Regions from separate parts of the Homo sapiens genome. Here all the other regions are linked to region 1. Evidence: fine-mapped expression QTL. A gene starts in region 1. Each other region holds a variant in brackets. All regions are shown on one strand. Distances are between the middles of the regions. Region 1 holds the start of RAD54L2 (RAD54 like 2). Region 2 overlaps RAD54L2 (RAD54 like 2). Region 3 overlaps RAD54L2 (RAD54 like 2). Region 4 overlaps LOC105377087 (a long non-coding RNA gene).

Region 1 (8,116 bases):
AACAGTTACCTCCTGGCTTCCCCATACAAACTGTCAGGAAAAAACCTTCTACTGCCAGGAATGACCTTGGACTTTATAGTGTGGACTCCTGCCTACCGGCACTGAATAAAGACAACCTTGGCCAGGCGCGGTGGCTCACACCTGTAACCCCAGCACTTTGGGAGGCCAAGACGGGCGGATCACGAGGTCAGTAGATCGAGACCATCCTGGCTAACACGATGAAACCCCATCTCTACTAAAAATACAAAAAATTAGCCGGGTGTGGTGGCAGGCGCCTGTAGTCCCAGCTACTCGGGAGGCCTGTAATCCCAGGGAGGCTGAGGCGGGAGAATGGCGTGAACCTGGGAGGTGGAGCTTGCAGTGAGCCGAGATCGCACCACTGCACTCCAGACTGGGCAACAGAGCAAGACTCCGTCTCAAAAAAAAAAAAAAGACAACCTCAAAATTTCCTCACCTGTCCAGAGTGCCAACAGGTGCAGACAGCTGCCTTCCTCACCAGACAAGGAAACTTGAATCCTGCACAGCACCACAGTACCCAGCCACATTCCTACTATTAATACTACTGAGATTAGAGGTCCTATATAATAATACACATTAACTACTACTGACAACCAGCACTGACCACCCTCAAAGCTTGAGGCCCTCATCTCCAGTCCTCGATGCAATCTGCAAAGAAGGCTGTATTAGGCCCATTTTACAGATGGAAAAACAAAACCAAACCAAAGCTCAGAGAGGTTAACAGCTTATCAAGGGTCAAAAATTGAGCAAGAAAAAGTGGGAAGACTCCAAAAACCAAGCTCTTCCCATTGTACCAGACATTTCTTCTCTCAGACTTTTTCTAAAGAAATAGAAAACTCTAAGCCTTATTTCCAAGAGTTTCTGAAGTTGATCCATTTAACTAAGAGGTGGCCAAAAACATTTATTTAAGCAATCACCTTGCCTTTAAGGCAACAAATAAACAAGTTTTTATTTTCTTTGATCAAGTGAATAGTCCAGATGGAAAATGAGAGCTATTTTGAAGAATTCATTTATTATTTAAATACCTTGATTTTACATTTCTTCATTTATTTTTGCCCAAGATATATACACAGAGAGATAGACAGCAAAAGGCAGAATTTCATTTTAATAGATCAGAATGAAGAGTAACAAAGCAAAAAACATTCAGATTTACATTATATTTTATGCAGTAAAAATTAAGAAGCAAATGACTTTCAAACAGACTGAGCCTTACCTCAATCTTACTCCTCCTGTTCCAAGGGACAGCACTCCAAGTGATCAGCAGACACTCCCAGCCTACATACAGTGAACCAGACATAGGGGATAAGCAACGCCTTCATGCTCCCAAAACCACAGTGGGAAGGAGTGTGATGGCTTCCTGGGGAATCTGAACACATATAGTATTTGTAAATCACTGCTCGTTGAGACATACACCAAAACAAAATGTTTTACCTGTGGTTTGTCTACAGGAGTACTTAAAATTAACAGGTGTATAAAATAGTGCAAAAATAATCCCATACCAGCATGAACTCACAGTGATAGCTAAACTTTTTCCATGGAGATGTTAAGATAATTAACTGTCACCAGTCAAAATTAATACATTATAAAAACTTTATTCAATGTCTTTACTGATTAAAAGCTTGATATACCTGAATCACTTCTTTCTTCATAGACCTATAACCACCTCTAAACCAGGAACTACCACTAACAAAATGTTAAAAAATATCATCAGCATTTTTGAGGTGCCCAAAGCAGTGCCTGGCAAAATGCAATAAATGTTCGTTTATGAAAGAATGAATGGAGAAAGAGAAAGAATACTACTTTTTTTTTTTTTTTTTTTTTTTGAGTCAGAGTCTCGCTTTGTCGCTGAGGCTGGAGTGCAGTGGCACGATCTCGGCTCATTGTAACCTCTGCCTCCCAGATTCAAGTGATTCTTGTCCCTCTGCCTCCAGAGTAGCTGGGACTACAGGCACATGCCACCCCACCGGCTAATTTTTGTAGTTTTAGTAGAGACAGGGTTTCGCCATGCAGGCTCAATCTCCTGACCTCATGTGATATGCCCGCCTCGACCTCCCAAAGTGTTGGGATTACAGGCGTTAGCCACCACACCCAGCCAAGAAAGAAAGAATACCATTGAAGAAAAATAATTATTTAAAGCTTAAGGAAAAAGATAATGTTTACAATAATGAGAACTATCAGTACAACTACAAACAGAATTACCTAACATTGCACTTGAAAGTTTATACTAGACTCCAGTTAGGCTATATTTCCTACCACTCTAAACTCAGAAGGTACAATGATTCTGATACTGTTTTTGTTCATGTAGGGTTCCCTTTAAACCTCACCTACAGACAACACACCAACTTTTGCCTGAATAATACATACAGAGCTCCGGCCCACAGCTGCAGGCCTCAGAGTTGGAGTTTGCGTACTGTCTTTCAATGATATAGATTGTCACAGGGAGACAGTGTACAGGCCAAATTCATTGAAGATGGATAATACTTCTAGTGAAGACAATGTCCTGTGAGAGTAAACAAGGATGCTGAAATGAGAGTCACTAAGATTTAATAGATTCAACGAACTCACTTCATGGCAGTAAGAGAAGATGAAATTTCATGGATTTAAGGATGGAAAGACCATTTAACAACATAAATGTTAGAGTTTTCTTATCCTTCTTTAGTGTTGCACACATTAAACAATGGTACACAAATTAGTGAAAAGAAGCTTTTAAATTTAGATTTATAAGAATTGGACTGAAAACGCCTGGAACTTACATGTATGATGAAGTCTAAGTTTGTCTATCATTTCAAATAGCCACAGTGCTGAAAAGAAAGTATGAGTCACAATTCAAAAACAACGGAGGAAAGAAAAAAATGAACAGAGAAAAGCTTTGGATCCAAATACCACAAAGAAATTCCTTACTTAAAATGTTGTCAATGACAGTCACCACTCTGACTTGGAGTAAGAAAGGTCCACACTGTCCTCTACGTGGGAACAAACTCATCCAGCCCCACATAACCCTTCCAGTTGCATCCACCTCAATGTTCAGCCACCAATATAGTCAGCCACAATCCCTAGCAAGCAACAGGAATCCTAACAGATCTGAGTCACCCACTCCCACGCAGTAAGAGGTCACTCTCCATCAGGAAGCCCACTCTGCAAAGTTTCCTTGTTCATCTCCCAGGCTGCCACCACCATGACCCACATAAAGCTGATTCTCCAATCTCAGTAGCCTATCAACCCTCCTCTACACTCCCCAAACCACAACTCCCACCGGCCTCACCCTAACGACAAGACAGCTAGCACTACTCACCGTGTGCCACTACTCACTCCTGTGATAAGTTCCTTGCCTGAAAACCACTCCTCGTCAGGGTGCATCAGGGCCCCGGAGGATCCAGCTCTCTGCTTAACTCTCTTGTGCCCAGCTGAGCTCCTGCCTTTCCAGGAACTAATCACCAGTTACCTCAGGGAAGCTAAACTCTCAATGCCTCTTCTGCCCCAGCCCGACCCCAGTCTGCCAAATTCCCAGACCTCAGGAGAGGGGGTCGGGGAGACGCATCCAGATGCGCCTTAGGGATTAGACACACAGAAGCCCCTAAAATTCCAAATACTTTCCCAACCCCACACCGCGCTCTGGTCATCCTCCGGGGCGCCAGCATCCAGAGCCAAAAGCGCAGAGGGGCAACAGTTAAGTCTCCGTGTCCCTACGACTCCCTTCCCCGGCTACGAAATCCTCAAATATCAAGCCACTGAGGCCCCGGGTCGAGGCCCAAGACCCCCGCCAAGCCTCCGGCCACTGGAGTTTCCCGGGTGGGGGACCCCGTGCCCCGAAGGCCCGGGCCGCTGGGTCCATCTAGCTGCCCCGAGCCACTGCATGGCAGGGGCCCAGGCCGCGTCTCCAGTCGGTCCCCATTGTTGCGGGACCCGGCGGCCCCGGCCGGGAGCGAGGAACCGGCACCGGCGTCTCACCTCCTGCGCCGCGGCTCCGGGCCGCGCCGGACCGCGCAGGGCCGAGGGACCTCACGTTCAGCTTCGCCCGCCTAGGCAAAGTCTGCGGCGGCGGAGGCGGGGGCGGCGGCTGAGGCGGGAAGCAGCCGGCCAGGCCCGGGCGCCGCGGGCTGGCTCTGGCCAAGCGTCGGTCTCCACCGGCGGCGGCGCTCGCCAGCCTCCGCTCACGGTCCGCGCCAGAAAGCGTCCCCCTCCCGGCCCGCGCGCCCGACCGCACGGACGGGAACACGCGCCGCGGAGAGGAAAGTTCCGCTGAGAGCCGACTGAAGGCCGTTCCCCTGCGCCGGGTGTACGGCGATTCCTGCCTGGATGGGACCGTTTCTGGAATGAATGCCGCACAGAAATCCCAAGCCAGAAGCTGCCTGAGAATGGTTCTAGGGGTGGGTCCAACGGAATGGTTTTGCACTCGCCAGCCATTTAGCATCTCAATTGAGCCTCAGTTTCTCCTCATTTCTCATTGGGAATAATCTAGGCGGCTTGTTAGGATTGAATGAGGTGATGCGAATACCTAGCTCAGAGATAGGGAGCTCTACACCGGGGTACGATCGTTACTGATCCTGCCAATGCTGCTGCTACTGTTGCCTCCAACATAGGTTGTGCTCAGCCCTCAAGGGCCCTTGAAATTATGCGCATCATGTAACTCTTCTTTTTTCACCCTCGGTCCCCACCTACCATCCTGTTTCCTGTTAAGTGAAGCTGTCTTCAGAATTCCCTGGAAGAGAAGCAGAGGCAAAAGGGGGCTTTCTTGATTGCTGACACTCAGGTGGAGGTTAAGGGTGCAGGTTCTCCTTCCTCAAGTTGGGAATTACTGCCATGTGGCCATGTGGGCTCCAGTTACTGATGGGACTGTAACGGCTCTCTCCACTATAGCCTCAGGTTCTCTTCTCCTCTTCCCAATAAGTGAATGTTGACAAAATGATTTTTTTTTTTTTGAGAAGGAGTTTCGCTCTTGTCGCCCAGGCTGGAGTGCAGTGGCGGGATCTTGGCTCACTGCAACCTCCGCCTCCTGGGTTCAAGCTATTCTCCCGCCTCAGCCTCCCGAGTAGCTGGGATTACAGGCGCCCGCCACCACGCCCCGCTAATTTTTTGCATTTTTAGTAGAGACAGGGTTTCGCCATATTGGGCAGGCGGGTCTCGAACTCCTGACCTCAGGTGATCCTGCCCACCTCTGCCTCCCAAAGTGCTGGGCCACCAGGCGTGAGCCACCACCTCTGGCCGACAAAGTGATGTTTTAAATTACAAAAGTGCATCTTTCTTTGAAGGCTTTGTATTTTACTCATAAAATCAAGAGGATAGCAATTCCTTTCTCGTCCCCACTTTCCTTTTCTTCTAGGCCTTCACACCTCTAAGATACCAGATGCGGTTATTTTTGGAGCTAACTCTTGATGGGAATTTAGATCTGCAGAAGGTGTTCCAAAAAAAATCCTAATTTTCAGGTGTTCTCAAATTTCCCATTTTTACATACCCCCTTGGCTTCTGAGACACATATATGCCTGATTTTTCATTTATATTATTTTCTGGAGGTAATGAAAGGGTTCTGCCTGTCAAAAGGCACTTTGCTATCTAATATGGATCTGTGTCCCCACCCAAATCTCATGTTGAATTGTAATCCCCAATGTTGGAGGTGGGGTCTGGTGGGAAGTAATGGGATCATGGGGGTAGATCCTTCATGAATGGCTTAGCACTGTCCCTTTGGTTCTCTTCTTGTGAGTTCTCACAAGATCTGGTTGTTTAAAAGTGTATGGTGTCGGCTAGGCGCGGTGGCTCATACCTATAATCCCAGCACTTTGGGAGGCCGAGGCAAGTGGATCACCTGAGGTTAGGAGTTTGAGACTAGCCTGGCCAAAATGGCAAAACCCTGTCTCTACTAAAAATGCAAAAATTAGCCAGGCATGATGGTGTGTGTCTGCAATCCCAGCTACTCGGGAGGCTGAGGCAGGAGAATCACTTGAACCCAGGAGGTGGAGATTGCAGTGAGCTGAGATTGTGCCACTGCACTCCAGCCTGGGCAACAGTGAGGCTGTCTTAAAAAAAAAAAGTGTATGGCACCTCCCCCCACTTCTCTTTTCCTCCTACTCCAGCCTTGTGAGGTGCTCGCTCCCCCTTCGCCTTCCACCATGAATGTAAGTTTTCTGAGTCCTCCCCTGAAGCCCAGCAGATGCCAGCATCATGCTTTCTGTACAGCCATGAGCCAATTAAACCTCTTCTTTATAAATTATCCAGTGCCAGGCATTTATTTATAGCAGTGTGAGAACAGACTAATAGAGTGTTCCTTCTGGAAACAGCAGGCTCATGGGTTAGAAAGCAGCACAGTCAAAGCCTCTGGAAGCTTCTCCGCTTCCTCAGGTAAGAGGAACTTCATCCTAGGTTCTTCAGAGGCAAAGAATGCCTCAAAAGCTGGTTCCAGCCAAGTGCAGTGGCACATTTCTGTAGTCCCAGCTTCTCAGAAGGCTGAGGCAGGAGGCTCACTTGAGCCCAGGAAGTCAAGTTCAGCTTGGGCAATATAGCAAGACACTATCTCTTAAAAAAATAAATAAAAATTTTAAAAAGCTAGTTAACTTCTCTCCAGCAGCCTGAGGTCAGATCAGCATTCCGACCCCTCCCAGCTTCATGTCTTGCATTTTACTCATTTGGCCTCTTAGCTGGGACTCTCCGGGTGACACATAGAGCATATTTGGCCTCAGGAGTTGAAACAGGTTCACATGAAAGCCCCAGAGACTACCAAAGAGAGGAGAAAGAAACCAGTCAGGTTGGCCAGATATATTTAAACGCACACACACACACACACACACACACACACACACACTCCTATTGTTAATCCCCCCACCCCCATCCCCTGGCCCCCAATTAAAAGACTTAAGGCACAACCACCAAAACATAGACACTTACCTTTCTCATGTCACTAAAGTAGGAGCCACAAAGGCCAGAGCTAGCTCCCCTGGTGATGGAAGCCTCTTCCATTCCCTCCTCCCAGGATGGCATTGTCCTTCTGTAACATCTGTTTCCCCACCCTTCTAGAAATTCCCTGACTACTTGGATGATGTCATGCCCGCACAACAACCTCTGAGATTCATGGTACCCCAAAATTCACCTGTAGAAAGATTTGGTTCTATTAGGGGAAGTCCCTAGAGTGATTTATGCATACACCTGCCTATTGTTGGCTATACCTTTAAGTGAGTTTAAAAGATCTGGGACTGCCCTTCTGGGATTAGGCAAAATTCACCAGGGACTTGTTGGTTAATCAGAAACCAGAACAAGGTTTTCTTCATCACCATGAAAACACACATGGAAAAACACTCTCTTCATTTTTTTTTTTTTTTTTTTTTTTGAGATGGAGTCTTGCTCTGTCACCCAGGCTGGAGTGCAGTGTCGTGATCTCGGCTCACTGCATCCTCCACCTCCCAGGTTCAAGCCACCCTCTTCATTTTATCTGTTTCACCTCCTGCTTATTCCGTGAGAGTTAGATCAATCCTGCACCCACCAGCCACACTTAATGGCCCCCCCTCACTTCTGAATGCCAAAGCCATGATCACTCTGAACCAGATTCCAAGGTGACAAAGGGTTGTATTGCTTTCTTCAACAGTCATCCCATTCTTGGGATATTTTTACCTTTTCTGCTTGTATACCACTCATCACCCAGATTATAATGTCCTAGGAGATTTTTTAAAAATCGACCCCAGTATCTAATGACGGCCTAGCATAATTGCTACGCCATAAAATTCCCCATTCAGCAACTATTTACTGGGTACCAATATGTACCAGGCACTGGCCAGGCACGGTGGCTCATGCCTGTAATCCCAGCACTTTGGGAGGCCAAGGCGGGCGGATCATGAGGTCAGGAGATCAAGACCATCCTGGCTAACATGGTGAAATCCCGTCTCTACTAAAAATACAAGAATTAGCCAGGCGTGGTGGCGGGCGCCTGTAGTCCCAGCTACTCAGGAGGCTGAGGCAGGAGAATGGCGTGAACCCAGGAGGCAGAACTTGCAGTGAGCCGAGATGACGCCATTGCACTCCAGCCTGGGTGACAGTGCGAGACTCCGTCTCAAAAATAAATAAATAAATAAATAAATAAATAAAAGATGTACCAGGCACTGTACCCAATGCTGGG
Region 2 (5,000 bases), 98 kb before region 1:
AGCCAAAGGGCCTGCATATTTGTTTTGATTATCAGTTCTGGTCACCATGACACATGAATGGCAGCATGCATACCAGGAGCCATGCCAGTAAGTATGTTTGATACATAATCAAAAAAGCTGTCACAAGCCTTTTTGACATTCTTATTCAAATAAGAGTAAGAATGTTCCAGTTTCACAGTGTGGCTACAGTCTGCTACTGTATAAAACTATAGACAAAATGTATCTGACTTATAGTAGACCAATCACATATCATTTCACAGAGTATTCCTAGCAAGAGTTGAGAACTCCCAGGAGAAGAGAGGAAAGGAAGAAGGAAGGATGCAGTGATACCAAAGCATCATCACAGACCACGCTTGCCTTAGTTTCCTGGCCTTGACCCAGGACTGTGGCTATAAAAGAAATATTTGGAAACCCCTCTTGTCCCCAGACACATACCTTCTGCTGACTTATTAAAGCAGTGGTCAATTAAGAATAATACCTAACAGGTCTGCTGAAGAGTAGCCAGGGGTAGAGGTATGAAGTCAATGAAACAGGTCCCTCAAGAAAAGAATGAGAGAGGTCTCAATCTGATTAAGTATGGAATCCAATGGAAGGTACCCCTAATAACTTGTCTAAGCTATATATCTCTTGAATTCTGATTATGCTAGCAGTCAAAAACGCTGCCCCACAGTATTTTTCCATTAATCCCCTTGGAATAACAAGTTGTGCAGCTGAGTTGCACACTGCAGGGGGCATCAGTTATATTACACTGTGTGAATGGCACCCCCAGGAGTTATGTGGTACAAAACCATCACCTCTCTCCTTGGAGCCCCCAAACCTCCAGTGCAGTGAACTGAGGTGGCCCCCTCTCACTTTATTCTCCCTTTATTGAAGACTCTCAGTAGGAGTAACTCCCTTGGGACCATGTGTATCCTTAGTCCCCATCTCAATCTTCCCTGAGGCCCCAATGCACCTTGCAACACACACAGAATGCCTTAAGGGGGTTCAGCCCCAGCCAACCGCTGCTACCACAGTCCCGGAAGCGATCCATGAACTGTGTATACAAATCTCGCTGGATCTTGGAGAGCCGCACAAGGATCACATTTTCTTCCTTGGCAGGGAGATGAATCTTCAGCACAGTGTGGCCTCTCCTATGGAGGCAAACAGAACAGAAACGGCAAGGTAGTGTGGCCAGGAGGGGTCAGCACAAGATAAAAACAGAGCCTTTTGCACTCCTGCCACACCTCCCTCTTGAGGATCTCAACATGCACTGCAGCCTTGCAATAATGCAGAGTGGTTCAACAACCAAGAAGAAACTCACCTTAAGGATGAAAACTAACACTAAGAGGCAGAGTGACCTGTCCCAGGTCAAGTCTGACTGCATGACAGAGACAGGGGAACTTGAGGTTCTTACTTTAATTTGGGCTGCCTCTCTGAGCTTTCGCTCCATATGCCATCTCAACAAGGAAAAATGAGGGGTCTGCTTTAGACTAGCCTAAGGTAAGTCAGCAGAATGGTACCTTTTTCTTGCTTCTCTCAGCAAGTAAGACAGGTGTCTCCAGTACCTTTAAAGATAACTTTTGAGAGAAGCACTTCTAGGCCAAACTTTCAGAGAACTGAAACAGTGGATATCCACCATCTGCTAGCTTGTCACAGGAAGCAAAGTTTTACTACTGCCCCAGGGAAGGGGCCCTCCTACTCCAACACCCTATCCTGTATAACAGGTTTGGCATGCCCTTGGCAACAGGGCCCTCTGAAAATTCAGGAAGCAGGACCCTGAGGATGGCTCACCTCTGCACAAAGCCCTCCAGAAGACTGTGCAGGACATGGCTCCGGTACCGCATGAGGCGGACGTCCTGAGGTGTGCTGTCAATACATTGCCCATTCAGGATAGGGCGTTCAAACATGTTGCTGAACTCCTGCCGGGTGCCAAGGAAGTCTGGGCGCACAAAGTCCACCATGCACCAGTACTCAATGAGGTTGTTTTGCAGAGGGTACCCAGTCAGCACCACCCGGCGGCGAGAGCGGATATTCTTCAGAGCCTGTGAGGTGCTGGCCTGGCAGTTTTTGATGCGGTGTCCCTCATCACAGATTACTACATCAGGGCCAGGGCGGCATAAAGCCTTCTCAAACTCTAGGGAGGGAAGAGGATCCGGAGTCAGAGGGTGACAGGGCCTGCTCTTAGTCAATAATATGAGAAGTAGGGGTGCACCCTGGAGGAGACAGAAGAAATGAAGGAAGCAGGAAAGCAAGAGTCAGCCCCCCTTGGTGAGAGGGTGCCAGCCATTCAAGCTCCTGGATATGACTGGTATGACTTGGTATGAATGCTAATCTGGCAGTTGACTCTTTTTTTTTCTTTTTTGAGACAGAGTCTCACACTGTCGTCCAGGCTGGAGTGCAGTGGCGCAATCTCCGCTCACTGCAACCTCTGCCTCCC[G/A]GGTTCAAGCGATTCTCCTGCCTCAGCCTCCCAAGTAGCTGGGATTAGAGGCATGCGCCACCATGCCTGGCTAATTTTTTGTATTTTTAGTAGAGATGGTGTTTCACCATGTTGGCCAGGCTGGTCTCGAACTCCTGACCTCATGATCTGCCTCTGGCAGTTGACTCTTGCAATAAATATCCCTTTCCCCCGTTCCGTTCCTTTCCTTACTTTATTTTTCTTTATGTGAAAAGTATAACTGACTTGCATTCCTAGGGCTTAGACCAACTGGGCAGCAGAGAGAGGGACCTTACAGAGTGCCAGCCTAGGATTAAAAATGCACCTGGATGAAACCAATAGGAATAATCCAGACACTTTAGTAGGCTCTCACCATTGCCAGCGTCTTGACTCCATCTGAGGGCTGGCTGGTAGGAGCTAGCTAAAGGACAGGGTCTTCCCGCAGTTATTTTCCAGTCATTGCTAAATGGCAAATTCATCCCAGCTCTACCATAGAAGCAAACCTAGAACAAACATAATCTCATAGATGAAGAGACTTCTAAAGTGAAATGGCCTCTGAACCCTTAAAAACATTCTTCCCCAAATGAGCAAAGGCCCCTTAGAAGATGGAGTAGAATTAGAACTATGACAGGAATGGTTTTCACTAAAAACAACTGGGATAAATTCTTTTTTATAAATTCACAAACAATAGTATTACTACTTTGTCTTTATATTAGTGATTTAAACACTTTATATTTTCTTCATGCTTTCTCAGAACATCTCTAGAAAGTGGTAAAGGAAATGGTTACTATTCCAACTGTTCTGTAAGAGAAACAGGGATAGACGAACAGAGGAATCTCCCCCAAGCCAGTGTGTGGCCTGGCCTAACCATAACTGCACAGCTGGCAGAGAAAGCAGTACCTTCTCAGAGCCATTGGAAGTCATCCTACTGATCTTGGGAACCAGGATTTTTGGTCCATGATAACAATTCACATCAATAATGCACTTTACATCTGACTAGGTGCTATTAGTAGACATGATTTCTTTTTTCCTGAAACACCAACAAGAGTATTCCTGGGATAGGCTGCCCACCTCTCCGAAACTCCTGCTGCCGATCTTCCTCATCTAGATCAATGATGACTGGGTGAGAACGCTTCTTGGTTTTCTTCGGTCTACCTGTGGCAAATGATTTCTTCAGAGTGAGGAGTCTGTACATCTCGTACCCCATCAGCAGCACGCCACCCTCTGACACCCAATCAGCCATCACTTTAGCACGAGATGCCATCGTCCTGCAAGATGAACAGAGAAAATTGTGTGAGATGTGAATTATATCTCAAGAATTATTGTTTCTGCTGCTCCCAAGGAAGAATTGCTCACAATCAAAGCTGTGTTGATGTACATTCAGAACTTCTTATTACCAAAGATTTCATGTGGCAGCAAGCACAGGGGTAGCCTACCACCCAAGAACCTCCCATCATCCCAGAGAAACTAATTGCACTCAGGATGAACTGGATCATTGATGGTGGTTAAACAGCAAGAAACATAGCAATTCAACTACATAAGGCAAGAGAAAATGACAACCCCCTTGGATATTCAGGCATGACTACAACTCAACATTTGAAGGAGCATTTCAATCCCATGATAAATACAAGGTCACAGAAGGAAGGGCAACATTCTGCAGTTTACTTGCCTGGACTCAAGTGAATAAAGAGCCACAAACAGTAAAGAGGAAAGAGGAGAAGAGACCAGATGACCCTCAGTAAGTCACTCCACTTCCAAACACCGGAGCACTCACTGTATTTCACTGATTGCATGTGGACTAAAAGTCCTGAATGAGCAACCACCTGTGAGGTCAACTAATCATCTCCTCATTTTTATGTGTGTGTCCAAACATCACAAAAGGCACCCTCTGAAAAAAATATAGTAAAGTCTACTTTCTCAATTATCCACACCAATGAGGGGAAAGGTTAGCATGTAGAGCTGGTTTGTTGGATCAAGAAATAGCTTTAGACTTTTGGAAATCAGGTTGACTTTATGGCATACATATATAGATAATTTTATTTAAATCTAAAACAAAGCAAGGCTGACACCTTTCAAAGCTTTGGGAGTTGTACCATTAAAGGTCAATTGCAGACCAGTGCTTAAAAGAAGTGACTAATGATTAGGTTTTTAAGAAAAGTGAAATGTAATAAGTAAAAAATTAGACAGTAGAGACCAGGCATGGTGGCTTACGCCTGTAATCCCAACACTCTGGGAGGACAAGGTGGGCGGATCACCTGAGGTCAGGAGTTCGAGACCAGCCTGGCCAACATGGCAAAACCCTGTCTCTACTAAAAATACAAAAATTAGTCGGACATGGTGATGGGTGCCTGTAATCCCAGCTACTCGGGAGGCTGAGGCAGGAGAATCACTTGAACCTGGGAAGCAGAGGTTGCAGTGAACTGAGATTGCACCACTGCACTCCAGCCTGGGTGACAGAACAAGACTCCGTCTCAAAAAAAAAAAAAAAAAAAAAAAAAAAAATCAGACAGTGGAAAGATCCATTGTTTCGTGTTGAATTTTACTACGATATGCATGGGAAAATATGACCATGCCCACATATTTTTCA
Region 3 (8,116 bases), 49 kb before region 1:
TGACACCTAGGGACTCTAACAGCATCTCAGGAACAATGAGAGCCAAGCAAACATTACTGTCTTCCATTATTTCTATTCATTCTACTTTCTAGAAATGAGACTCCAACTGAATAAGCTAGCAACAGACAGCAAATGCTACTGGAGGGATAAAAGTGAATGGTCATTTCCCCGCAGAAATGGAGAGAGGCTTCTGGACAGTATAAAGGAGGGCAAACGGATTCCCAAGCCACATGACAGCTGTTAGGATGAATGAGAACTGAAGATAGTAAACACCAGTAAAGACAGAGGATCAGTGCTCATCCTCCTGGAATCTGGAGAACGGCAGGAGTACATTTTCCTACGTTCCTTCAGATTCAAGTAATTAGATGATCTAATGCAACGTTCAGTCCCACTAGGGGGTCTGTTATGAACAGACAAAAACCCTATTCCTCAGTCAGTAGGAAGCTTACAAACAACTAAATCCTATGCCATAAAAGGCTGGAATTAATTGAGAAGCCTTGTGGCTGGCCAAATAACCTAACATTAGACTGAACATTAAAAGTTCAATGCCATTTCAAGAAGCTGAGGGCAAAGGAAGGAGTGAGCTGAGCAAACCAAATAGAAGGCATCAAAAGGGGATCTACCAGCTATGGAGATGTAGTGCCCTCCCAGTAGGGGCAATTTATAGTCACTGGAATGGCCAAGAGGTAGCGCAGCACTGCAGGAGATGCAGTGAGCTTTCTGAAGTTGTGAATCTGTCTAAGAATCTCTGCCTGGACAATTCCCTCATGTACACACAAGCACAATTGTATGTATAATTTCAGAAAACTTACAGACCACTCACAGTTACCCTCACATCTACCTGAAGAGCCCATGGCCTCCAGACTGCAAAGTCTTACCATAGGAACTCTGCCATTGACTCCTCCATGACCTGGGCAAGTATGCAACACTCGAATCTCTGGACCTGAGTCCAAACATCTGTCAGAGACAAGCTAAAGGCTAAAGGTTCTTCCAGCAGTAAAACAAAGCTTATGTGGAGGAACAATAATCTATTTCCTAGGAATGAGCATCTGAATTCATTGCATCTCAGTTCCTAGTCTGTATCTTCCCACTATGGATGGCCTAAGAAATCTAACTGGAAACGCCAAGGTCTCCCAGCAAAAATTCCACTGGAGGAAAATATAAGGCAACTTCTGTCACTCAATAGAGCCCACTTACCATCCAGCAGGTCTTCTTCATCATCCCTGTCACACTCCTCCACTGCCACCTCCTCCTCCTCCTCCTCCTCTTCCGCATCCTCCAGCTCCACGTCCGGGTCCAGGTCTGGATCGCTCCCTGAGGCAGATTCGTCTGACATGGCTCCCAGAGGTCCTCAGTGGGCATTACCGACTCATGGTCCACTGCAGGGGTGCTAGGAGAGGATGAAAGGCATCAGAATCACCAAGGGTTTTGCTTAGGAACACAAGTCTTTCAAAGAAAAAAATGCTAGCTGGGCACAGTGGCTCATGCCTGTAATCCCAGCACTTTGGGAGGTCAAGGTGGGTGGATCACTTGAGGTCAGGAGTTCGAGACCAGCCTGGCCAACATGGTGAAAACCCATCTCTACTAAAAATACAAAAGTTAGTCAGGCATGGTGGCACACACCTGTAATCCCAGCTACTCAGGTGGCTGAGGCATGAGAATTGCTTGAACCGGGGAGGCAGAGGTTGCAGTGAGCCAAGATGGCGCCACTGCATTCCAGCCTGAGCGACGAGGTGAGACTCTCTCCAAAAGAAAAACAAAGAAAAAAATGCTGAACATGAATTCCCCGGAACTTCTCTAAGCAAGGCAAGCTAACCGTATCCAAATCACCACCTTCCCTATGAGTGTTCTGGCTCTGAGACATGTTTTAGTGACTCTGCATAGCTCAAACATCTCTTGGCTATTTTGACAAGAAAACACCTTAAAGTAACAATAACAACAAAACTATAAACCTTGGAAATCCCATTTGTTCATTCCTTCCTGTATCAACTGTTTCCTGAGCACCAACTCTCTGTATCTATTTATACATATACATATATGTGTGTGTATGTGTGTGTGTGTGTGTGTGTGTGTATATATATATATATATATGTATAGAGTCCCCAACCTGCGATGGTTTAACTTACAATTGTGCGAAAATGACACACATTCAGTAGAAACTGTGCTTCAAATTTTAAATTTTTCCCAGGCTAGTGACATATGGAACTATACTCTCTGGCAATGCT[G/A]AGTAACAGCAATGAGCCAAAGCTTCCAGTCCACCATGCTATCATGAAGTGTGCAGTTTTCTGTGCTGCCAGATGATTTTGACTGTAGACAATGTAAGTGCTCTTTATTTTATTTATTTATTTTTAGACAAGGTCCAGCTCTGTTGGCCAGGCTGGAGTGTGGGTGGAGTGCAGAGGCACAATCATAGCTCACTGCAGCCTCAAATTCCTGGGTTCAAGCAATCCTTCTGCCTAAGACCTCCTGAGTAGCTAGGACGACAGGCACATACAACCATGCCTGGCTAAGACAGTGTTAAGTGTTCTGAGCACCTTTAAGGTAGTCTAGCCCAAATTATGATGTTCAGTAGGTTAGGTGTATTAAATAGACTTTCAACTTACAATATTTTCAACTTACGATGCATTTATCAGGATGTAACCCCATTGTACATGGAGGAACAGTTGTATATAATCGCAGGTGCTATTCTAGAGTTTGGGGACACAGCAGGAAGCAGAACAAAGCATGCAGGGAATACTTAGGGCTGGTGTGTGGCAGGAGGAGCTGCTAGTTTATATAGGGGAGGTCAGTGAAGTTCTCACTGAGCAGAAACCAAAAGGAAGGAAGGAAGCCGTAAAGACATCTTGAGGGAGTGTGTTCCAGGAAGACCGAGCACCAACGGCAGAGGAGGAGTGGCTGGGAGTACACAGGAGCTAGAAGTATGTTTTACCCAAGTTATTCATTCATTCACATTCAGTCCATCATTTGCTAACCTGCTATACTATGTCTATCATGTGTCAGGCACTGTGCATGTCTGTCTCTCTTATCACTTTACTATTAGCTGTAAAGGCCATTCCTTCGTGAGGGTAAAAAAATAAAAACCATGGTAAAGAGATGGCTAGTTGGGTTAGCTCTTTGATAAAGTAAATATAGCAAAATGTTAACTAGTAAATTCACTGACCAATTCTTTCCATTTTTTCTGTATATTTCAAATTTTCTTTTCTTTTTTTTTTTTTTTTTTTTGAGATGCAGTTTCACTCTGTCACCCAGGCTGGCATGCAGTGGCACGATCTCAGCTCACTGCAACCTCCACCTCCTGGGTTCAGGTGATTCTCCTGCCTCAGCCTCCCGAGTAGCTGGAACTACAGGTGTGCACCACCACACCCAGCTAATTTTTGTATTTTTAGCAGAGACGGGGTTTTACCATGTTGGCCAGGCTGTTTTCTAACTCCTGACCTCAGGTGATCCTCCCGCCTCAGCCTCCCAAAGTGCTGGGATTACAGGCATCAGCCACTGTGCCCAGCCTCAAATTTTCACACTAAAATCAGAGAAGAGGTAAATCATCTTTTTTTTTTTTTTTTTTTTTTTTTTTGAGATGGAGTCTCACTCTGTCACCCAGGCTGGAGTGCAGTGGTGCGATCTTGGCTTACTGCAAGCTCCACCTCCTGAGTTCATACCATTCTCCTGCCTCAGCCTCCCAAGTAGCTGGGACTACAGGCGCCTGCCACCACGCCCGGCTAATTTTTTGTATTTTTAGTAGAGACGGGGTCTCACCGTGTTAGCCAGGATGGTCTCGATCTCCTGACCTCCCAAAGTGCTGGGATTACAGGCATGAGCCACCGCACCCGGCCATAAATCATCTTTTACAAGACAAACTGCTGCAGATAAATACATCAACAATCAGATCATCCTCAAATTCCTATCTCCCAAAATAAAAACTGAAGTACAAGTCTCTAGTCATTTAACATAAAAAGTACTGCAGAACTGCAATATCTTACTAAGCTTCAGATAATTTGAAACATAACATCTATCTTCTCCTGAACAGAAAAGAAAAAAAGAAAAGCAAACTAGATTATTTAGAGTTTTGGAAAACTAGAACTTAAGAATTGTTCAGAGTTAGAAATAACAGGAATTACGAGTGTGTGTGTGCAGATGGTTCATGTACTTAGCCTCTCAAAGTAAAAAACAGCTGTGAAATGATCTAGTAATAAAATTTAAATTTTTGCATTAATAACTCACTTCCAAAAACATCTGCAAAGGGCATTAAGGGACAGGGGATAAATGTGATCGACAAATACAAATTCATATAGTTAATGCTGAGCTACCATTCACTTAGTGACCTGGCAGATTTTAAATCTCTGCAGAAACGACTATCCGGCCAGACGTGGTTGCTCATGCTTGTAATCCCAGCACTTTGGGAGGCCGAGGCAGGCGGATCACGAGGTCAGGAGATCAAAACCATCCTGGCTAACACGTGTGAAACTCCGTCTCTACTAAAAAATACAAAAAATTAGCCGGGCGTGGTGGCGGGCGCCTGTAGTCCCAGCTACTTGGGAGGCTGAGGCAGGAGAATGGCGTGAACCCGGGAGGCGGAGCTTGCAGTGAGCCGAGATCACGCCACTGCACTCCAGCCTGGGCGACACAGCGAGACTCCCATCTCGAGAAAAAAAAAAAGAAAGAAATCACTACCCTGTGTCACTGGTTCATTTAATAGGTTTTAGAAAGGAAGTAGTAAATCAATTAGATATCAACAACTTTGAAAGTAAAATTTACTTCTTAATATTTGCAGTGAAATTTATTTCTGAATGTTAGTATATTCATCAGTAACTACTCTGTGTTTGGAAGTCAATGGTTGTAAACAGCACAACCCCTCTCTTTCATCCTAGACTCCTTGAGATAAGAGTGTTTTGGCCAGGCATGGTGGCTCACATCTGTAATCCCAGCACTTTGGGAGGCTGAAGTGAGCAGATCACCTGAGGTCAGGAGTTCAAGACCAGCCCAAACAACATGGTGAAACCCCCATCTCTACTAAAAATACAAAATTAGCCAGGCATAGTAGCGCATGCCTATAATCCCAGCTACTCGGGACGCTGAAGCAGAAGAATCGCCTGAACCCAGGAGGTGGAGATTCCAGTGAGCTGAGATCCCACCACTGCACTCCAGCCTGGGCAACAAGAGTGAAACTCCATCTCAAAAAAAAAAAAAAAAAAGTGTTTTCTTTGCAGTGTGCTTGGCTGATTTTAGAGAACCATTTTTAATTAGCAAGTACTTTTAGGCAACCTGAATGCCTGTCATTCTAGAGAAGAAATTGTGTGGTGGCGACAGAGACTTCCAAAAAAAAAAAAACAAAGGCAACAAAGAGCCTGGTGTGATGGTTCATGCCTGTAATCCCAGCACTTTGGGAGGCCATGGTGGGGGAATTGCTTGAGCCCAGGAGTTCAAGACAAGCCTGGGCAACACAGCGATGCCCATATCTACAAAATATACAAAAACTAGCTGGACTTGGTGGTGTGCACCTGTAGTCCCAGCTACTTGGGAGACTGAGGCAGGAGGATCACTTGAGCCCAGGCAACAAGTGAAAAGGAGGAAAGGCTGGTCTTGGTGGGCAGCAGCAGTCAACTGTATTCTTCTCTAAGGGGCTCCACCCTCACACACACATACGTCTATGTGGGCATAGCCTTTCAGAACACAAGGCAGCCTTGATTCAGTAGTCAGCTCTTAGCAGAACTGTTAGACAGACATGGTTGGTGGCGGTGGGGGCGGGGTGGTGATAAAGAAAATAATCCATCTCCCTCATTTGCTCCTCATTCTAGGCAAAACACTGCTACAATCTCCAGTGACAAGGGGCTCTGCCTCTAATACACAGAAACCAGGAGAGCAATAATGGGTATGCTGCACCTTAATGAGGACCTGTGTTCTTACAGTGCAAGTTCTGGGAATCAAATTGTATTTTAATGAAACTGGAGAACTAGCTATTTAAAGGAACTCTAAAGAGGACCGCTCTGAAAAGCAAATATTCAACCCCTAAGTGTTTTAATAAGTCTACAGTTTAATATATTAGGTTTGTTAAAAGGAGGCTGTAATTATGAAGAAACCCATAGCCAATCCTAGCCTAGCACCTCATAGCAATCGTGAGAGTGAAGGAAAATATTGTTCTGCCTTGCTAAGTTCAAAGACAACGCCACCTGTCAATAGAGTGGTACCTGGCCAACAATCAGCAGAATTAATCATGCAGGCACAGGCCTTAGAGACATGAGGCATGGCAAGGTGGGGATATTAGGATATACACAAGAGGAAACACACACACAAACAAAGCCTTTGTTCACAAAGCAGACGACCAGGCTTGCAGAGTTCACACTGAAATCATAAGACTCCGAGCACACACGCTGCCTCATCATTGTGAGGCAGCTCATGAAATTTCACAGATGTCATTATGGTCCTTGATAGCATCATGATTGTTCCTTTTAAATAAAAAGATCCTTCCCAGACTGCCATGTCCTCATTAATTTTGGTGACCTTCAGTAGTACTAAATTCTGTCAAGTGGTCTCAAAGCAAGTCCACAGCAAGCGCAAATGACTTGTTTTTTTTCTTGAAGAATATCTATACAAAACACTGGATTTGAGCTAATTTACAAGGGGAAGAAAGTCTTTTAAGAGTAGAAAAACAGGCCAGGCATAGTGGCTCACTCCTATAATCCCAACACTTTGGGAGACTGAGGCAGGAGAATCGTTTGAGCCCAGGAGTTTGAGACCAGCCTGGGCTGGGCTTTTTTGTAGAGAAGACCCCACCTCTACAAAAAAAAAATTAGCCAGGCATAGTGGTGTGTACCTGTAGTCCCATCTACTTGGGAGGCTGAGGTGGGAGAATCACTTGAGCCCGGGAGGTTAAGGCTGCAATGAGCCATGACTGTACCACTGTACTCCAGCCTAGGTAACAGAGCCAGTCTCGAAAAATAAATAAATAAATAAAAAATTTTTAAAAAGAACAGCAGGAAAACATTCAGTCCAAAGTTTTGGTCAATACCCTTAAAAAAAATAGACAAGGAATTTATATAATTCAAAGACAAAAGAAAGTTCAGTTACTCTATAGTAAGTACTATAGAGTATATATATTATAGTATATATAGCATATATATATATATATATAGTACTGTAGAGTACTATACGGAGTATAGTACTCACCAAGTACCCACAGAATTCTTCCAGTCTGCTGAGAGATCCACTATGGACTGTTAAAGTTCTTTCCAAATACCTTCCTATGCAAAACAGACACTACTCCAATCACACCCAATGCATACTTCAAACCTCCATGTAGCCCAATGCCTTTTGAGTGTCTATCAGTTACATAAAGAAAATTTAGATACACACAAAGCAGCCACAGAGCTAAACTGACACAACAGCTCAACATTTTACTTGGAAATATAATGATGATTTTGGCAATTTGAAACTTAAGAGAAAATAAGAAACAAAAGGTGAACAAATGCATTCAAGACTCGAAGGACCAGGGCCACAGAAGACAACTCTCTCCACAGGAGACAACTACCTCCAAAAGATAGCACAATGTAGCCTGGCCCAGGGAATCAGAACCTAGCATAGCACTAAAGACATGTTTACAGAATCAGTCAAGAAACCTAATTCCAGCCACAGCTCTATGAATAACTAGCTAAATGACTTTGGGCAAGTCAGTCCTCCCTCAGCTTCAATCACTCCTCTTATTCCAACCCAGGGGAGAAATGGGCCTGAGTTAATCTTCAAGATCTCTTCCAGATTCTAAAACAGCAATTCTCAAAGTGTGGTCTGGGAACCCCTGGGAGTCCCCAAGACCCTTTCAATGGAACCACAATGTCAAAATTATGGTTTAAAGAGCCATTCAGGGAGTCTCTGAGCCCACCATGGCTCAAGAGGCTACCCCAGTTTAAAAAAAAAAAAAAAGCCATTCAAAGTGCAAGATAAAAAATGGATTTTTATGTTAATAAAGTACAAAAAAATTCCTCGAGGTAACTTTTTCAAACTCTGTATTACAATTAACCTTTAAGAAGCTACCACTTGTCGGCCGGGCGTGGTGGCTCATGCCTGTAATCCCAGCACTTTGGGAGGCCGAGGCGGGCAGATCACCTGAGGTCGGGAGTTCAAGATC
Region 4 (8,116 bases), 250 kb before region 1:
TAACACGGTGAAACTCCATCTCTACTAAAAATACAAAAAATTAGCCAGGTGTGCTGGCATGCACCTGTAGTCCCAGCTACTCGGGAGGCTGAGGTAGGAGAATCACTTGAACCCAGGAGGTGGAGGTTGCAGTGAGCTGAGATCACGCCACTGCACTCCAGCCTGGGCCACAGAGCAAGATTCCATCTTAAAAAAAAAAAAGAAAAAGAAAAAGAAAAAGAAAAAAAAAGAGATATGTTTGACTGAAATGCTTCACTGGCAAAAGATACTTTCATAAGCAAAGGTTAAAAAAAACAGAAAGGAGAATTGCAAAACAAATGACAGATAAACAGTTTGAATGACTGTAGAGTTGTCCCGGATGACAAAACTACAACCCAATAGAAAAATGGCCAAAAGAATATAAATAGAAGAGCAAATATATATTAGGTTGGTGCACAAGTAATTGCGGTTTGCCACTGAAAGTAATGGCAAAAATAGGCCAGGTGCGGTGGCTCATGTCTGTAATCCTAGCACTTTGGGAGGCCGAGGTGGGCAGATCACCTGAGGTCAGGGGTTCGAGACCAGTCTGGCTAACATGATGAAACCCCGTCTCTACTAAAAATACAAAAATTAGCCAGGCATGGTGACGGATGCCTGTAATCCCAGCTACTCAGGAGGCTAAGGCATGAGAATCACTTGAACCTGGGAGGCAGAGGTTGCAGTGAGCCAAGATCGTGCCACTACCCTCTAGCCTGGGTGACAGAGTGAGCCTCCGTCTCAACAAAAAAAAGTAATGGCAAAAACTGCAATTACTTTTGCACCAACCTAATATTATCAATGAACATATGAAAGTATACCCAATCCTCCCAGTAGCAATAGAAATGTAAAATAAAGTTACTATGAGATGTTACTTTATACCCTTTAGACTAAAAAGAATCTGTAAGTGTGATAATGCCTACTGTTGGCAGAGATGCATGGTGTTCTCATACACTATGGTTGGTGGAATTATGGCTTTCTAAAGGGGCAGTTTGGCATCATCTGTTAAAATTTAATAGGCCCATACCCTTCATACCCTTTGGCCCAGAAGCCACACTGTCCTATGAGAAGCCCTGAGTGATAGCATTTCATGTGTGTGATGACACACATGAAAGACATTTATGCCACACAATATGTAGTGGCAAATAAAAACAATGAACAAAAGAATACCCATAGCTAAGGAAATGGATGCATAAACAGTGGTACTTCCATTCCTTGGAGTATTAGGAGTATTAATTGTCAATAAGAAGAATGGTTAGATCTATACCAGCTGATTTGGTGATATTTCCACAATATATTGTGTTCTCTTTGGCCAAAGGCCATGCATGCAGTGTGTACTATCTATGGATGGAAATATCCTCCTCTTCAGAAAAAAAGCACCTCCAAAGCCTTTGCACAATGCACCCTCAAGGACCCTCAGTGATTACTTATAATCTGTGATTTCAGTAGTCCGTCTCAACAATGTAAACATAGCCTGCTCAGCGCCTCCCAAATGTATTGGACCACTGTAGGCCCCCAGTGCCCCATCTTCCTGTTTTGAGTTGCTACCTGGGACGTATACTTGTCTTGTAGAAGAGGAGGTGCTAAAATTGGTAGATATCATCAATGTCAGGAGATGACAACCTAGTCTTGGAGATGGAAATGGCTCCAATGATAGCACCCAGCCCAAGACAATGTGGCACCTTGCTACACAGAAGACGACAGTGCCTCAGCCCAAGACAACAGGGGACAACACCACCTTTACCTGACCTGGACCCTTGGCCATGACAGTGTCCAGGAAGGTAAGACAACTGATGACTGACAACTCCTGCACCCCCCATCTAGGACTTGGTTACAGAACTCAAATTTGTCTTTCTAAGTTCCCTGATGAGGAGGAACCTTTGGAAGGGCGTTTTACCAAGCTAGTGCATTCCCTGTCACGAAGTCTCCTGGCTTACATTATTGCCTGTGATTCTACCAATTGGCCCATGATACTGGCCAGACCACTCTTGACTGCTGTCACCAATTGTGGCAGGCTAAGTCATGTGTGCTTACCCACACCTCACTGGAGTTCCAATTAACCTAACCATCCCCTGTCTGGCCACACCTCCTACATGGAGATGGACTGAGTTCTGGGTCCTCCAGGATTGGAGACATTTTGACATCTGTTGGGATAGTTATTTTTCTACCACCGCTGCCCCACCTACCACTTCACCACTTCCTCCCCCAACACCTTAGACACATCCTTTGAGGTCTCCCCAAATGCAGGATCATCCACACCATCAGAGATCAGACTGCCCCTCTACTACTACCTCCCCTTATGAGCCTAATAGTCCTAATATTTTAACACAGTGGGATGAAATCAGAGCCAAGCTTCTCAGGAGATGTAATTGTTGGGCCTGTTAATATACCACACCAAAGCTGTTCCCTGAGCTACTCTAATTCCCCCTGGTCTGGCACAATTACCAGCACTACAGATATCACTCTCTCTTGCTAACATAAAACCCAAAATTACAGCCCAACTGCTTGGCATCCAAGGCATACATGTTGTTATTTGCCCCTCCAGAACCCCAAGCAGGGATTGTGTTTACATATCTGACCCAGATTTAACATGACTTGGAGACACTTGGGAGCTCAGTGTCACTTCACCTCTTGGGGCCTAGGGTAACATAGCCCATTTTCAGGTTCTCTAATTCATCCATGGGGTATACCATGGTCCTGTGAAACTTGGGACTCATTACATGCACTCCTGATTCCCACAGCCCACTTCTGCCTCCCTTTATGCAAGGGGAACAACAGGGTCCAGACCCAAATCTGTAACTTCAAATGTGTCCTACCTGTATTAGCTCATTTTCACACTGCTGATAAAGACATACCCGAAACTAGGAACAAAAAGAGGTTTAATTGGACTTACAGTTCCACATGGCTGGGGAGGCCTCACAATCCTGGCAGAGGGTGAAAGTCACTTTTTACATGGCAGTGGCAAGAGAAAAATGAGAGAGAAGGAAAAACAGAAACCCCTGATGAACCCATCAGATCTTGTGAAACGTATTCACTATCACAAGAATAACACAAGAAAGACCAGCCCCCATGATTCAATAACCTCCCCCTGGGTTCCTCCCACAACATGTGGGAATTCTGGGAGATACAATTCAAGTTGAAATTTGGGTGGGAACACAGCCAAACCATATTGTCCCACCCCTGGACCCTCCAGATCTCATGTCTTCACATTTCAAAACCAATTATGCCTTCCCAACAGTCCCTGAAAGTCTTAACTCATTTCAGCATCAACCCAAAAGTCCACAGTCCAAAGTCTCATCTGAGACAAGGCAAGTCCCTTCCACCTATGAGCCTGTAAAATCAAAAGCAAGCTAGTTACTTCCTAGATATAATGAGGATACAGGTATTCGGTAAATACAGCTGTTCCAGATGGGAGAAATTGGCCAAAACAAAGGGGTTATAGGGCACATGCAAGTCCAAAATCCAGCAGGGCAGTCAAACTTTAAAGCTCCAAAATGATCTCCTTTGAGTCCAGATCGCACATCCAGATCACACTGATGCAAGAGGTGGGGTCCCATGGTCTTGGGCAGCTCCGCCCCTGTGGCTTTGCAGAGTACAGCCTCCCTCCTGGCTGTTTTCACAGGCTGGTGTTGCGTGTCTGCGGCTTTTCCAAGCAAACAGTGCAAGTTGCCAGAGGATCTAACTTTCTGGGATCTAGAGGATAGTGTCCCTCTTTTCACAGCTCCACCAGGCAGTGCCCCAGTAGGGGCTCTGTGTGGGGGGTCCAACCCCACATTTCCCTTCTGCACTGCCTTAGCAGAGGTTCTCCATGAGGGACCCAGCCCTGCAGCAAACTTTTGCCTTGGCCTCCAGGCATTTCCATACATCTTCTGAAATCTAGGCAGAGGCTCCCAAACCTCAATTCTTGACTTCTGTGCACCCACAGTCTCAACAGCTTCAGAGGGTGGAAGCTGCCAAGGTTTGGGGCTTCCACCCTCTGAAGCCACAGCCTGAGCTGTACATTGTCCCCTTTCAGCCATGGCTGGAGCACCTGGGACACAGGGCACCAAGTCCCTAGGGTGCACACAGCATGGGGACCCTGGACCCAGCCCACAAAACCACTTTTTCCCCCTGGGCCTCCAGGCCTGTGATGGAAGGGGCTGTCATGAAGTTCTCTGTCATGGCCTGGAGACATTTTCCCCATAGTCTTGGGGGTTAACATTAGGCTCCTTGCTACTTATGCAAATTTCTGTGGCCAGCTTGAATTTCTTCTCCATAAATGTTTTTTTTTTCCACTGCATCATCAGGCTGCAAATTTTCTGAACTTTTATGATCTGTTTTCCTTTTAAAATGGAATGCTTTTAACAGCACCCAAATCACCTTTCGAATGCTTTGCTGCTTAGAAATCTCCTCCACCAGGTACCCTAAATCATCTCTCTCAAGTTCAAAGTTCCACAAATCTCTAGGGCAGGGGCAAAATGCTGCCAGTCTCAC[C/T]AAAACATAGCAAAAGTCACTTTTGCTCCAGTTCCCAACAAGTTCCTCATCTCCATCTGAGACCACTTCAGTCTGGACCTTATTGTTCATATCACTATCAGCATTTTTGTCAAAGACATTCAACAAGCCTCTAGGAGGTCCCAAACTTTCCCACATTTTACTGTCTTCTTCTGAGTCCTCCAAATTGTTCCAATCTCTGCCTGTTACCCAGTTCCAAAGTCACTTCCACATTTTCAGGTATCTTTTCAGTAACACCCCACTCTACTGGTACCAATTTACTATATTAGTTCATTTTCATGCTGCTGATAAAGACATACCTGAAACTGGGAAGAAAAAGAGATTTAATTGGACTTACAGTTCCACATGGCTGGGGAGGCCTCACAATCACAGCAGGAGATGAAAGGCACTTCTTACATGGTGGCAGCAAGAGAAAAATGAGAGAGAAGCAAAAACAGAAACCCACCAGATCTCTTGAGACTTATTCACTATCCCCTGATAAACCCATCAGATCTCTTGAGACTTATTCACTATCATGAGAATAGCACAGGAATGATTGGCCCCCATGATTCAATTACCTCCCCCTGGGTCCCTCCCACAACATGTGGGAATTCTGGGAGATACAATTCAAATTGACATTTGGGTGAAGACATAGCCAAACCATATCACTACCTAATGTCTTTGGGCCCTCCCTTATATTCAAGTAGCCAAGACCCCTTGGTTCCCAGCCAGACCATATTCATTCTGACAAATGTGAGCTATTTTTATTTCCATACTCTTAGGAGCAGGCTTATTCACTAGCAGGAACTGTAATGAGTACTGCCACTGTAACACAGCAACAAATCATTTAGGTCAATACAAACTTGTCAGCTATGCTGTCCCAACACATAAATCTGATATAGCACAGTCTCACCCTGGTGCAACAATCACATGACTCTCTAGCCCAGGTGGTATTAGATAATCACCTCACCCTAGATTAGTTCCTGGTCAGAGCAGAGGGGAGGGAGTCTGCGCCATCTAAGGAGCAACCTATTGCATGTATATAAATAACTCTGACCACGTATAAACCAATCTAAAGGCCATGGCCCAACAAGTACAGGTATTTTGTGAGCTTACCCAGTTTTATAACATTTCCTCTCTGGCTCTGGGTAAAATGTTTGACCCGTTCACTTGGCTTGATCTTACACAACCTGCCCTTTAAGAATGGGTAAAGGAAGTCCCTCTGGTGGAAATGAAAGGACACTAGAGAATAACTAATATTAGACAAAATAGAATGTAAGACAAAAAATTCTTCCAATAGACAAAAGCATTGTATAATGATGAGTCAATCCATTAATACATAATAATTATAAGCATATATGTACCTAATAAGAGCCCCAAAGTATAAGAAGCAAAAACTGACCCAGATAAAGGGGGAAATAAACAGTTCAACAACAATGGTTGGAGACTTCAACATCCCACTTTCAATAATGAATAGATGATCACCTAGACAAACGATAAACAAGGAAATAGAATATTTGTACATCACTACACAGCAACTAGACTTATCGAACCTATATAGAGTACTCATCCAACAGCAGAATACCCATTCTTTTTAAGTACACACAAAACATTCTCCAGGATAGACCATATGTTAAGCCACAAAACAAGTCTCAATAAATTGAAAATGATTGAAATCATAAAAATATCTTCTCTGATCACAGTGGAATGATCATAGAAATCAACAATCAAAGGAAATATGGAAAATTCACCAATTTGAGGAAATCAGCAACACACTTCTAAACAACTGATGGGTCAAAGAATAAATCACAAAAAAATAGAATTTACTTTGATATGAATGAAAATAAAAGCACAATGTGCAAAAACCTGTGGAATGCATCAAAAGCAGTGCTCAGAAGGAAATTTATAGCTGCAAATGGCTACATTCATTAAAAAAAAAGAAAGATCTCAATAACATAGCCTTCTACCTAAAGAAACTAGAAAAAGTATAGCATTCTACCTTGAGAAACTAGAAGAAGAGCAAACTAAACACAAAGCCAACAGGAGAGAAATAGTAAGATTATAGCAGAGATAAACTAAATAGAAAATTAAGAAAAACTATAGATCAGCAAAACCAAAAGTTGATTCTTTAAAAATATCAACAAAAATTGGCAAACCTTTAGCTACACTAAACAAGCAAAGAGACATAAGACTTAAAGTACTAACATCAGAAATGAAAGTGGGAACACTACTACCAACTTTATAGAAATAAAAAAGATTATAAAATAATACTATGAACAATTGTATATAAACAAATTAGATAACCTATGAAATGGGCAAATTCCTAGAAACACACAAACTACCAAAACCAACTGAAGAAGTATTAGAAAATCTGAATAGCTCTATATCAAGTAAAGAGATTGAATCAGTAATCAAATCATTTCCAATAAAGAAAAATCCAGGACCGATTGTCTTCACTGGTGGATTTTATCAGACATTAAAGAGAAACCAACACCAATTCTTCTAAAATTCTTCCAAAAAATAGAGGAATAGGGGCACTTCTTAACTAATTCCTTGAGGCCAGCATTACCCTGTTACCAAAGCCAGACAAAGACACTATAAGAAACTAAAGAGTGATATCCCTTATGAATATAGACTCAAAAATCCTCAGAAAATAGTAGCAACTCAAATCTAATAGCATATTAAAAGGATTATACACTATGACCTACTGGGATTTATCCCAGCAATGCAAAGAAGGTTCAACATACAAAAATCAATGTCATACATCATATTAACAGACTAAAGGGGGGAAAACACACAGTTACCTCAATTGATGCAAAAAAGGAATTTGACAAAATCCAACACTCTCTCATGATAAAAACACTAAATAAACTAGGAATAGAAGGGAACTTTTCCAACCTGCTAAAGATCATCTATGAAAAATCCACAATGAGCATCATAATTAATGGTGAAAGATTGAAAGATTTTTCTCTCAGATCAGGAGCAAGATAAGGATGTCTGTTTTCATCACTGTTATTCAACATTGTACTGGAAGTTCTAGCCAGGGAAATTAAGCAAGAAAGAAAACTAAAATGCCCACAAATTGGAAAGGAAGATGTAAAACTAGCCGGGCACAGTGGCTCACACCTGTAATATCAGCACTTTGGGAGGCTGAGGCAGGAGGATCACCTGAGTCCCGGAGTTTGAGACCAGTCTGGGCAATATAATGAGACCTCATCTCTACAAAAATCATAAAAAATTAGCCAAGCATAGTGGCACGTCCCAACTACTCAGGAGGCTGAGGTGGGAGGATTGCTTCCAGGAGGCGGAGGGTACAGTGAGCTGAGATTGCACAACTGCACTCCAGCCTGGGCAACACAGTGAGACTCTGTCTCAAAAACAAAAAAAAAAAAAAAAGAAAGAAAAGAAAACTATCTGTTTGCAGATAACATGACCTTACATACATAAAAACATAAAGAAAATCCTAAAGAATCCACAACAAAATCTATTAGGGCTAAAAAACTAATTCTTCAAAGTTGCAGGATATAAGATCAACATACAAAAATCATGTGTATTTCTACACACTAGGAGTGAACAATTCAAAAATGAAATTAAGAAAACAATTCCATTTGTAATAGCATCAAAAAGAATA

Evidence for each region. PIP is the estimated chance that this variant, and not a neighbour inherited with it, causes the effect.
Region 2: its variant is the best candidate, but not a certain one, in a credible set for the expression of RAD54L2 in unexposed skin (GTEx, PIP 0.55).
Region 3: its variant is the best candidate, but not a certain one, in a credible set for the expression of RAD54L2 in whole blood (INTERVAL, PIP 0.66).
Region 4: its variant is the best candidate, but not a certain one, in a credible set for the expression of RAD54L2 in spleen (GTEx, PIP 0.78).

What each region holds. Positions count from the first base shown.
Region 1 is chr3:51,534,766-51,542,881 of GRCh38, reverse strand. RAD54L2 (RAD54 like 2) reads right to left here and starts at 4,163. Exons shown (of 23, transcript NM_015106.4): 1 at 3,967-4,163; 2 at 1,232-1,293. It overlaps LOC105377085 (a long non-coding RNA gene), which reads right to left. Exons shown (of 3, transcript XR_940835.3): 2 at 6,895-7,096; 3 at 6,213-6,723. RefSeq lists enhancers at 3,187-3,276, 4,095-4,389 and a silencer at 3,807-4,206.
Region 2 is chr3:51,634,274-51,639,273 of GRCh38, reverse strand. RAD54L2 (RAD54 like 2) reads right to left here. Exons shown (of 23, transcript NM_015106.4): 10 at 3,485-3,681; 11 at 1,771-2,113; 12 at 953-1,130. Among named protein-coding and RNA genes, the nearest start is that of TEX264, 34 kb to the left of the region's middle. The variant G/A (reference allele first, on the strand shown) is at 2,417.
Region 3 is chr3:51,583,641-51,591,756 of GRCh38, reverse strand. RAD54L2 (RAD54 like 2) reads right to left here. Exons shown (of 23, transcript NM_015106.4): 3 at 1,198-1,390. The coding sequence starts at 1,336. Among named protein-coding and RNA genes, the nearest start is that of RAD54L2, 49 kb to the right of the region's middle. RefSeq lists an enhancer at 7,878-8,116. The variant G/A (reference allele first, on the strand shown) is at 2,226.
Region 4 is chr3:51,783,730-51,791,845 of GRCh38, reverse strand. The region is part of intron 2 of LOC105377087 (a long non-coding RNA gene); the gene reads right to left. Among named protein-coding and RNA genes, the nearest start is that of IQCF6, 8.6 kb to the right of the region's middle. The variant C/T (reference allele first, on the strand shown) is at 4,489.